3 separate regions of the Homo sapiens genome follow, and all the other regions are reported to be linked to region 1. The links are microRNA targets in miRTarBase. Many come from high-throughput screens and were not tested one by one. Region 1 holds a microRNA gene; each other region holds the end of a gene's coding sequence. Distances are from middle to middle.
What was found. The annotated mature microRNA hsa-miR-6765-3p reads UCACCUGGCUGGCCCGCCCAG and lies in region 1 at 930-950, shown strand. An mRNA with a match to its seed (bases 2 to 7 or 8) in the 3' UTR can be bound and repressed. Matches are read on the target gene's strand: a 7mer-m8 pairs with bases 2 to 8, a 7mer-A1 pairs with bases 2 to 7 and ends in A, and an 8mer does both.

Region 2: the mRNA of SEC14L5 is a reported target of hsa-miR-6765-3p. Seed matches in the 3' UTR shown: 7mer-m8 at 1,727-1,733.
Region 3: miRTarBase lists C14orf180 as a target of hsa-miR-6765-3p. Seed matches in the 3' UTR shown: 7mer-m8 at 1,995-2,001 and 7mer-A1 at 2,010-2,016.

The regions. Positions count from the first base shown.
Region 1 is chr14:105,148,484-105,151,727 of GRCh38, reverse strand. MIR6765 (microRNA 6765) reads left to right here and starts at 864; the gene lies at 864-950. JAG2 (jagged canonical Notch ligand 2) reads left to right here. Exons shown (of 26, transcript NM_002226.5): 8 at 1-102; 9 at 332-445; 10 at 624-737; 11 at 817-863; 12 at 951-1,124; 13 at 2,408-2,558; 14 at 2,639-2,791; 15 at 2,870-2,983.
Region 2 is chr16:5,014,301-5,017,544 of GRCh38, forward strand. It overlaps SEC14L5 (SEC14 like lipid binding 5), which reads left to right. Exons shown (of 16, transcript NM_014692.2): 16 at 559-3,244. The coding sequence ends at 670. Among named protein-coding and RNA genes, the nearest start is that of NAGPA-AS1, 18 kb to the right of the region's middle.
Region 3 is chr14:104,588,074-104,591,317 of GRCh38, forward strand. It overlaps C14orf180 (chromosome 14 open reading frame 180), which reads left to right. Exons shown (of 5, transcript NM_001008404.3): 4 at 201-236; 5 at 505-2,442. The coding sequence ends at 710. TMEM179 (transmembrane protein 179) reads right to left here. Exons shown (of 4, transcript NM_001286389.2): 4 at 2,791-3,244. Among named protein-coding and RNA genes, the nearest start is that of C14orf180, 9.9 kb to the left of the region's middle. RefSeq lists an enhancer at 1-260.

The sequences.
Region 1 (3,244 bases):
GCACCTCCAACCCGTGTGCCAACGGGGGCTCTTGCCATGAGGTGCCGTCCGGCTTCGAATGCCACTGCCCATCGGGCTGGAGCGGGCCCACCTGTGCCCTTGGTGAGTGTCTGCACGTGAGTAGGGGACTCCTGCCTAGTATCAGTGGGGGTCTGGGAGTGGGGCAACTCGCTGGGGATGGGGTGCAGTGGTCAAGTCCACACGTGTGGCTGCGGCTGGCTTGGCGAGGACAAATGGCAGGAAGACCCAGGCTTGCAGCGCCACCTGCCCATGGGGACCTTATTCCCACGGCTCACACTGCCAGGGCCCCACCTTTCTCCACCCTCTGCAGACATCGATGAGTGTGCTTCGAACCCGTGTGCGGCCGGTGGCACCTGTGTGGACCAGGTGGACGGCTTTGAGTGCATCTGCCCCGAGCAGTGGGTGGGGGCCACCTGCCAGCTGGGTAAGGGCTCCGAGCGAGTGCATGGGAACGTGGGCCGCGCATGCGGGCTGCGGGGGCTGCTGGGGCTGCGGGGGCTGCTGGGGCTGCTGGGGCTGCTGGGCTGCGGGTGCCAGGTGCCCGTGCTGCAGGGGGCAGGCAGGGCCCGAGCCCCACGGCTCCCACCTTGTCTCTTTCACAGACGCCAATGAGTGTGAAGGGAAGCCATGCCTTAACGCTTTTTCTTGCAAAAACCTGATTGGCGGCTATTACTGTGATTGCATCCCGGGCTGGAAGGGCATCAACTGCCATATCAGTCAGTATGGGGGGTGGGCGCCGGCGGGTGGGCCGAGGCACATGGGACCCCGCCTCTGACCCTGCTCCTCTGCCCCCAGACGTCAACGACTGTCGCGGGCAGTGTCAGCATGGGGGCACCTGCAAGGTGAGGCGGGGCCAGGAGGGTGTGTGGCGTGGGTGCTGCGGGGCCGTCAGGGTGCCTGCGGGACGCTCACCTGGCTGGCCCGCCCAGGACCTGGTGAACGGGTACCAGTGTGTGTGCCCACGGGGCTTCGGAGGCCGGCATTGCGAGCTGGAACGAGACGAGTGTGCCAGCAGCCCCTGCCACAGCGGCGGCCTCTGCGAGGACCTGGCCGACGGCTTCCACTGCCACTGCCCCCAGGGCTTCTCCGGGCCTCTCTGTGAGGTGAGGTCTGCCTGGTCACCCTGCCCCACCTGCTGCTCTGGGAGCTGTAGGGCAGGCCTCGTCCCCTGACCATGGGGCCTGAGTGACCCAGGGGTGCTGCAGGGGAAGTTGTCCCCAAGGCGTCCCAGGCTCAGCTCTCCACTGGGTGCCAGGTGGGCAGGCGGGGCTGTCACAGGTCACCAGGCTTGGCCCCCTGTGGCCATTGCTTGTTGTGATGGGTTTCCTGGTGGCCTGGGCTAGGAGCCCCCGGGCTGCTGGCTGCCCAGGCCTATCTGTCCATCTGTGCACTCCCTCGGGACTGGAGGGCAGGGGGCTCTGGTGGGCAGAGCACATGGGGTAGGGTGGGTGCCTGATGGTGGAGAGGTATACACCTGTCATAGGTGAGTCCTGGGTCGGAGTGGGCATCTCTCTCAGGGCTGATGCTCTCGCCTCCCTCTGACCATCTGTTGGTACTGGACCCCCTCCCCCAACCTCCCCTTCCCCCCTGCCTCCAAAGTAACCTGCCTTCCCCCTTCCCCACCACCCCTACCACCCCCTTCCCCACCTCCCCCTTCCCCACCTCCCCCAACCCTGCCTCCCCCCACCCACCTCACTATCACCCCTCCCCTACCTCCCCCAACCCTGCCTCCCCCCACCCACCTCCCTACCACCCCCTTCCCCACCTCCCCCAACCCTGCCTCCCCCCACCCACCTCCCTACCACCCCCTTCCCCACCTCCCCCAACCCTGCCTCCCCATTACCTGCCTCCCTACCACCCCCTCCCCTTACTTCCCCTTTTTCCCTGCCTCCCCCCACCCACCTCCCTACCACCCTCGGCCGCCCACGATCCTGCCCTGGCCTTGGTGCAGAGGATGGGCCTCCTGTCCAGAGGGCTTCTTGGGGCCCAGGGCAGGGGTCTGACCTCAGGACCTGCAAGCATGGCAGTGGCTGGCCCTGGAAAAGACCCACAGTCTTGGCTCTGAGGGTGGCCAGGCAGTGTGTGAGGGGCTCAGGAGCTGTCCTTCCTGCCAGCAGCAGGGGCCAAGGCCACACTCCTCCCGAGGGACAGTGAGGAAGCTGGGCTGCAGTGGAGGTGGGGGTGGGGGCCCACAGGTATCTGCGTTCAGCTAAGGCCTGGGCAGTCTCAGGTGGGCAGGGGTCTTGGGCTCTGGCTGGCACTGTTAGGCCCAGGGCGGAGGGGCCTGGGGGTCCCCAGGGATCTACCTTCGTATGGACAGAGGCCTGGCCTGTGTTCCCGGCCTGGGCCTGGGCCTAGGCTCTCACAGGCACCCCCCACCCTGCAGGTGGATGTCGACCTTTGTGAGCCAAGCCCCTGCCGGAACGGCGCTCGCTGCTATAACCTGGAGGGTGACTATTACTGCGCCTGCCCTGATGACTTTGGTGGCAAGAACTGCTCCGTGCCCCGCGAGCCGTGCCCTGGCGGGGCCTGCAGAGGTGCTGGGTGCGGCATGGGGTGGTGGGGGAGGTGGTGGGGCAGGGGCGGGCCTGACTCCTGACTGTACTGCCTGCCATAGTGATCGATGGCTGCGGGTCAGACGCGGGGCCTGGGATGCCTGGCACAGCAGCCTCCGGCGTGTGTGGCCCCCATGGACGCTGCGTCAGCCAGCCAGGGGGCAACTTTTCCTGCATCTGTGACAGTGGCTTTACTGGCACCTACTGCCATGAGAGTGAGTGGCCACGAACGGCGGGCTGGTGGTGGGGCTGGGCTGGCCTGAGGCCCTGGCTCACCCCGCTCGCCTCTGCAGACATTGACGACTGCCTGGGCCAGCCCTGCCGCAATGGGGGCACATGCATCGATGAGGTGGACGCCTTCCGCTGCTTCTGCCCCAGCGGCTGGGAGGGCGAGCTCTGCGACACCAGTGAGTGTTCCAGCACCCGCCCACACGGCCTGTGCCTCCACCCCTGTGGGCCCCTTATCACCCTGAGATGGACCGCTGTCTGGGTGCGGCAGGCCCCGTACCCAGAAAGGCCTGGCCAGGGGGTGCTGCCACCATGGGGTGGAGTCCCAGGCTGCCCCCATGCCCGAGGCCAGCTCCCCCGGCCCGACGCTCCTCCCCCGCCCCTCTCTGTCCTCACCTGGCCCAGCTCCAGTGCTTCCTCCCCCGGGAAGCCCTCCCTGA
Region 2 (3,244 bases), not on the chromosome of region 1:
TGCTTTGGGAGGCCGAGTCACGAGGATCTCCTGATCCCAGGAGTTTGAGACCAGCCTGGGCAGCATAGTGAGAGCCCCGTCTCTATACAAGAAAAGAAAGTTCTCGAGGATGGCGCTGCCCTGAGGTTTGGAGTAGGAGTTAACCAGACAGCTGGGGGAGGAGAGAATGGGCTTCTGCCTCAGGCTCAGCGCACACGAAGGCCACTGCAAGAGCTAGGAGGAGGACCATGGAATTTGAGTGCAAAGAGTAAGGAGGGAGTGAGACTGGAGACAGGGCCGGGGACTCCCTGGGCTGTGGCGGCCTTAGGGCCATGCAAGGGCCTCAGGCCAGGGGAGCCCCTGATGGGTCTGTGGCAGGCTGGGCTCCATCTGGGGAGATGGGAGTGTGGGGAATTCGGTAGTGCTTTTCTCTTCATGGCGTCACTTGCTTTTCCCTTTGCATCGGCCTGGGGCCCTGGGGCCTGATTTGCAGCATCAACAGCTTTTCCACTGCTGTGTGTCAGCCCAAGGGCCTTGTCACTGTGAGAGGGTAACGTGTGCCACGCCCTTCCTCCCCAGGGGCTCCATGTCCAGCCTGGAATCCTGCACCAGCGGCTTCTCCCAGCTCAGCGCCGCCACCTCGTCCTCCTCCTCCGGCCAGTCTCATAGCAGCTCCCTGGTCTCCAGATAGCCGGGCCCAGTGTTTCAGGGCCGCCCGCTCGCCTCCAGTGTCCAGAAATGTCCAGAATGAGAAGCCAGCTAACTGCAGGGCCTGGGACCATGTGGGCTGGAGCCCCAGGCCTAGATGCTGCCCAAGTTGGGGTGTCTGGAGCGGATGGCAAGGATCCAGAACTGGCCTGTGGGTGGTGTCAGGGCTCTTGAAATTGCAAGGACAGAACCATCTCCTTCCGGCTTCGTGTAAGGAAGACCAAGCCAAGGCCAAGGTGTCTACCATACCACACCTTTGGGACATCCGGGCTTAGCGACGTCAGCCAGGCCCATCTCCTCTCTGTCCACCTCTTGCTCTGCTTTCGCCATGCAGGGGACCATCACTATCAGGTGCCCTTCTCCTCCCTGCAGCTTGCCTGCATAAGAGAGCCTCTTCCTCCCAAAGGCTCCAGCCCACTTCCCAGAGCTGAGTCTTAGCCTGGAAGGGGGAGCGATTGCCAGGTCAATTCCTGAACCAATCACAGTTGCCAGGCACACTGGAGAATGCTGATTGGCCAGCAGGGTCATGCCCAATCTGGACCAATCACCGTGATCCAGGGTTGCAGTGAGGTGCAGTGATTGGCCAGCCTGGATCACATGCACATCTCTGGAACCAACCACCTGCTCTCAAAAGCACTAGTGGGTGCCTCGAGGAGTACTGGGGTCCCCCCTAAGAAGAAGGAGGAAGGATGCTGGGGAGGCAGAAATGAAGGGTGTTTACCTTGGCATCTGATTGCATAACGTTCTGTTATGCAGTATCAAGATGTGCTTGGTGAGCAGTTAAGTGAGTTACAGGCGCTGCTCTTTGTGGGGAACAGCACATCCTGAAGTGAAAATCCATGTTCCCTGCACTTGGCCAGCATGGCCTAAGCCTGACCATCCCTGATTGGAGAGGGTGGGAGAGCCCTGGGTTTCTGCTAAGTTCCAGGCAGTGATGGGGTGACTGAGGCTGTCTGTATACCCCACTGGAGATGCCTTTCTCTCCTAGGGAACTGTTTAATTATGACTGTTTTTGGTTGTAAGCCACAGAGACCCATGCCCAGGTGCTTCAACACAAAAGCATGATCATTCATGGGTGCATAGAACTGGCCAGTCCAGGAGGGCTTGCTTCAGGTAAGGCTAGATCCAGGGTCTCAACATGGAGTCTCGATTCCCCCCGCGAGTGGAGGCTGCTGTGTTTGCCCTGGGGCAGATATGACTCTGGAACTAGGTTCAATATTGACATGAGTTCCCCTAGTTACTACACAGGAGCGTCTTGGGTCTCCTTGGGGCCTGAGGACATTTCTCCTTTCCTTTCCTGGACTCCCCAAAAGGCAGCCAGTCAGGGGTCACCAACTTGAAGCCTGATCTGGCCTGCTTTTAGTGTTGCTTTTTTGCCTTTAGAATGGTTTAAAAATTGAGGCATTTCGCATCGAAATCAGGATTTCTGGCTTCCCTTAGGCATTTGGGAGCACCAGCAGAATGGGGTCACTATTGTTGCATGAAGACAACACCTCTGCACCCCTGGATGTGGCCACGCCAGTCCCTACCCCATTGACTTGCGCCCAGCCCACATTACACATCCTCATGACCTGCGTGGCAGGAGTCTCACTGACATGGCTCTGTCAGCAGTGGCTGGTACCCTTGTCTCCTGGCCTTGCTTAGAGTTGGGGCTCATCTCTGCTGCAGTAACTGAGCCAAGGGGTGGTTTTGTGGCCACAAGAATCATCTTTATGCAGGCTCAGCAATGCAGGGCCAGGAAACTTATATCTACGCCAGCCTCAACCCCAAACCCAAGGAAGAGAGAAAGTGTCATCTTTTCAGATACATCCTTCTTCCTGCTGGGAGAGAGCCTTGCCCACCTTCCTGTTGGCTCTCTGTCCGCTTCTCAGGTATCTGAACAAAATAGATTGCTTTGCACTCTGCGTCAAGGTGTGTGTGCACATGTGTGCATAAGAGACCGACTGATTGGAAGGAGACGTTCTCAAAACTAATTGCTCCCATATCACCAGGCATTTATTGCTGAGAGCAACTTGCAATATTTTCAACTATCTTTAAGTGAATTTCTAGCTTTTCTCTTAAAAACTAGGTGTTATCCTACAAGTATGCTGGGATAAGCTGCCCTGGCAGTCTTTATACATTTATTGTCTAGCCCCAGAGAAGGACACAGAAGCCTTTTACGGAAGGAAGCTGGAACTGCCTGTTCCAGAGGCGGGTGGGGGGAGGGGAGTCTGCTATCAGCTGTCCACCCTTAACAGTGGGGGTGAGGAACCTCAGGCCCTTTCAGTTCTGCTCTTGAGAGTGCTCTCTCCCTAGGGAAAACCAGCCCAAACTGGCTTAAGCAACAAAGCAAATTCCCTGGGTCCTGTACTAGGGATGGCTGAAGGTGGGTGCTGCTTCAGATATGGCTGGATCCAGGAGCTTAATGTCCTCAGGCCTCTCAACTGCACCCAGGCCTCTTGACTCTGCATCTCTTTGCATGCTGACCTCATTCTTTCTTCCACCTGGCGGGAAAGATGGCTGCCAGCAGCCCCAAGCCTATAATTTCAGGATTCACACTCTAAGAGATGCTTTTCCA
Region 3 (3,244 bases), 560 kb from region 1:
CAGCAACTGGAGGAGAACATGAGGGCGGATTCTCAAATCATGACTGTCCCTTTGAGGAAGTGTCAGGACCGGCTGGGCCTGGGTCTCTCACTGATGAATAGTCTCAGGGTCCTTCGGGGGTGCAGGGTGAGACGAGAGGGCGGGGGCGCCCGATGGACTGAGGCAGGTGCCCCCAGCTGACTCTCCATTCTCTTTCGCAGACATTGCTGACAAGAACGCCACAGCCACTGTCAGGGGTGAGTTCTGAGCCCACATCCCTGTGCCCCACTGCCCCCTCCGTGGGTGCACCCACCCTCACTCCCTCCCCGAGGGAGGTGTCACAGGGCCAGGGCCTCTAAGGAGTCCCCAGTTGGGGAGCTCTTGTTGCAAGGAGACCCCAAGAGGCTAGGGAGGGGCCATGGGCATGGACAGGGTGGAATCTCCCCATCCCTTCCCCACCAGCCCCAGTCCTCCAGGGAAGGGTCGCGCTGGCTGGCGCTGACCCTGCCTGCCCTCTGGCCGCAGTGCCCGGCCGGCCCAGGCCACACGGCGGCTCCCTGCTCCTGCAGCTGTGTGTGTGCGTCCTGCTCGTGCTGGCCCTGGGCCTATACTGCGGCCGGGCCAAGCCCGTGGCAACGGCACTGGAGGACCTGCGGGCCCGGCTCCTCGGCCTTGTCCTGCACCTGCGGCACGTGGCCCTCACCTGCTGGCGCGGCCTCCTGCGGCTCTGACGGGCAGGACGGGCAGGACGGGCAGGGCTTCCAGGAGAGCTCAAGCACTCCGGGGGCTCCGAGACAGCCTGAGCCCTGGCCCTGCTGCTTGGTGAATCATGGGGGCCAAAAGGGGCTGCTGCCTGAGGGCTAACTAGGAAAAGGGGGACCCCGTGGCGTGAGATCGGACATGGGGGGCACAGCAGGCGGCCCCGCCACACTAGTCAGCACAGCCCTCCTGTCTCCTGTGTTGGGTCCATGTGAGATTTTATTAGAAAGAGGATTCGACTGCTAACAGTTGAGGCTCCCCAGGCTCACCCAAAGACCCCTCCCTCGTCCCAGCAGGAACTCCTGCTGCTGCTAGGGCCTGGCCCGGCCATCACCGTGTGCACCCTCTTGAGGAGGGGGACACACTGCCCGTGTTCAAGGGGCTGCTCGGAGGAGGCAAACCCAGCCTTTTGCGATTATGGCTTGTGGGGAATCCAGACCTCGAAACCCCACGGGGAGGGAAGGGTCTGGTTGTCAAGGTGGGTCCCTTTGATGTGAGGTGCCATCCTCTGAGCCCAGGTCTGACCCCCCTACCCAGCCCCGTGAGTCTGGAGAGGCCCCAGGGAAGGACCCCTCATCAGGGGCGGCTTCAGGTGTAGAAGCCGAGGGGACAGCAAGGGGCCCAGACACCCCCGACCTTCAGAACAGCCATCTGTGCCCAGCTCTGCAGGCCAGGCACACCCAGCTGAGCCCGGGGCCAGCCAGCACCACCCACCAGCTGGGGCCTGTGGGTCCCGGAGACCGTCTGTGGTTGTGGCTTTGTCGCCGGATTGCAGAGCTGAAGGGAGCCCTGTGGATGACAAACACCAGGGGCCTCTCCAGACCCTACGTGGGGGGAGGGCTGAACAAAGCAGGGAGGCCCACGGTTAGACACCAGGCAGAACTGCCCAGGAGAGACACAGGGACAATCAGACCAGCGTCCTCGAGGTTAGCCTGAGGCGGGTGGGCACGGCCGACCATCCACCCGGTGGTTCCTGTTTGTCCCACCACTTAACTGGGAGACACTGTTTTATTAAAACACACCGTGGCTTCCTTCAGTCTTGGTGTTTTTATAGAAATGAGAGAAACCAGAACCGATTTGCTAAGGAATCGGCCTCAGTGGCCAAAGCGGATGTCCTGGGCGCCTGGAACCTCCCCATCTCCTGCAGGCCTGGGAGTGGATGTGTCCACTCGGGCAGGGGCTGACCAAGCCCCTGGGTCTTGAGGGATGCCCGGCCGGCTCCCTTTGCCCTGCAGTCAGGGTGTGTCCCTGCAACTCCAGGTGCCAGGGAACAGGTGAAGTGGTCTCCAGGGTCACTTCCAGCTTTGGAATCCAGGGAGCCCAGAGTTGCGGGTGGAGGTAACAAAAGGGGCTGTTTCCAGAAGTGGCCCAGAAGGGACCATGGTGGGGGCTCCCCCGGGGACCCTCCAGCATCTCTCCCCAGGCCCAGCCCATCCCACCCCACCCCAGGAAGGAGGATGGGCAGGTTCCTGCCCCATATTCTGGATGCAGAAGCAGCGGCTCCCAGAGGTTGGGTCTCTCAGAGCAGTCACAGGCCCAGGCTCAGCCCTGTGTGCTTGGGACACCCCTCCAGCCCCGGTTCTGACGGGGGACACCGCACAGGCCGATCTCCCCCAGCCGCTGCTGTCTGTCCACTGCAAAGGCAACGCAAGGACGTGCCTGGCTTTGCGGGGTCCCACGCTACGACCTCAGGTGTTTTCGAATAAACATTGCTCAAAGATGGGCACCACACCCCCAAGAGATCCTTCGAAATGGATCCTCCCACCTGGGGAAGCTGCATGGGAAGCAGTGAGACTCGAAGCCACTAGAAAATGTACAGAGAGGAAGGCAGAACCTCGGGAAGGCCAACTTCTAATTCCTAAAAGCTTCGGACACGAAAGGCTCAAAGCCTGAGCAAACTGTGTGTGACCCACAAATTACAGACAGTTAGAACCACGAGCCAGGCCAGCCAACAGCGGAGAGGGCAGACAGAAGCCCCACACGCTCCTCCTCATCCCTGTTGGAGACTCGGGTGCTTTTGTTTTTATTTTGATTTTGAGGAATAGACACATGTAAGCTTAAGGATCTTTACTTTCAGTTTAGCCAGAGTGGAATTAGAACAGGGATATCATTAACAGCCAGCCAGGACAGAAGCGAAGGCGTCTCAGAAGCAACTTGGTGGACCAGCCTCAGGAACCCCGGGTCATGCCTGCACTTCCCACCTTCCTGCCTGGGGAGAGGCCCAATCCCCTGAGGGACCCTGGAGAGCCCACGACCAGGGCCGCCAGCCCCTGCCCAGCACACTGCAGGCCCAGCTGCCCCTTCCCAGGGCGATGTGTCTGGGCTCCGGAGACAGCCCAGTCCAGGGTGGGTCTATGTCTGCATGCAGCCGAGGATTTCCATCACCCTGGCCATGGGGCTGTTCCACACCTGCTCCTGGGATCCAGCAGTGCAGCCCCCAAGAACAGACCCAACCGGGGCCAAGCCTCAGGTTCCAGAAGCCACCCCTGCCTCCTGCCCCTCCTTC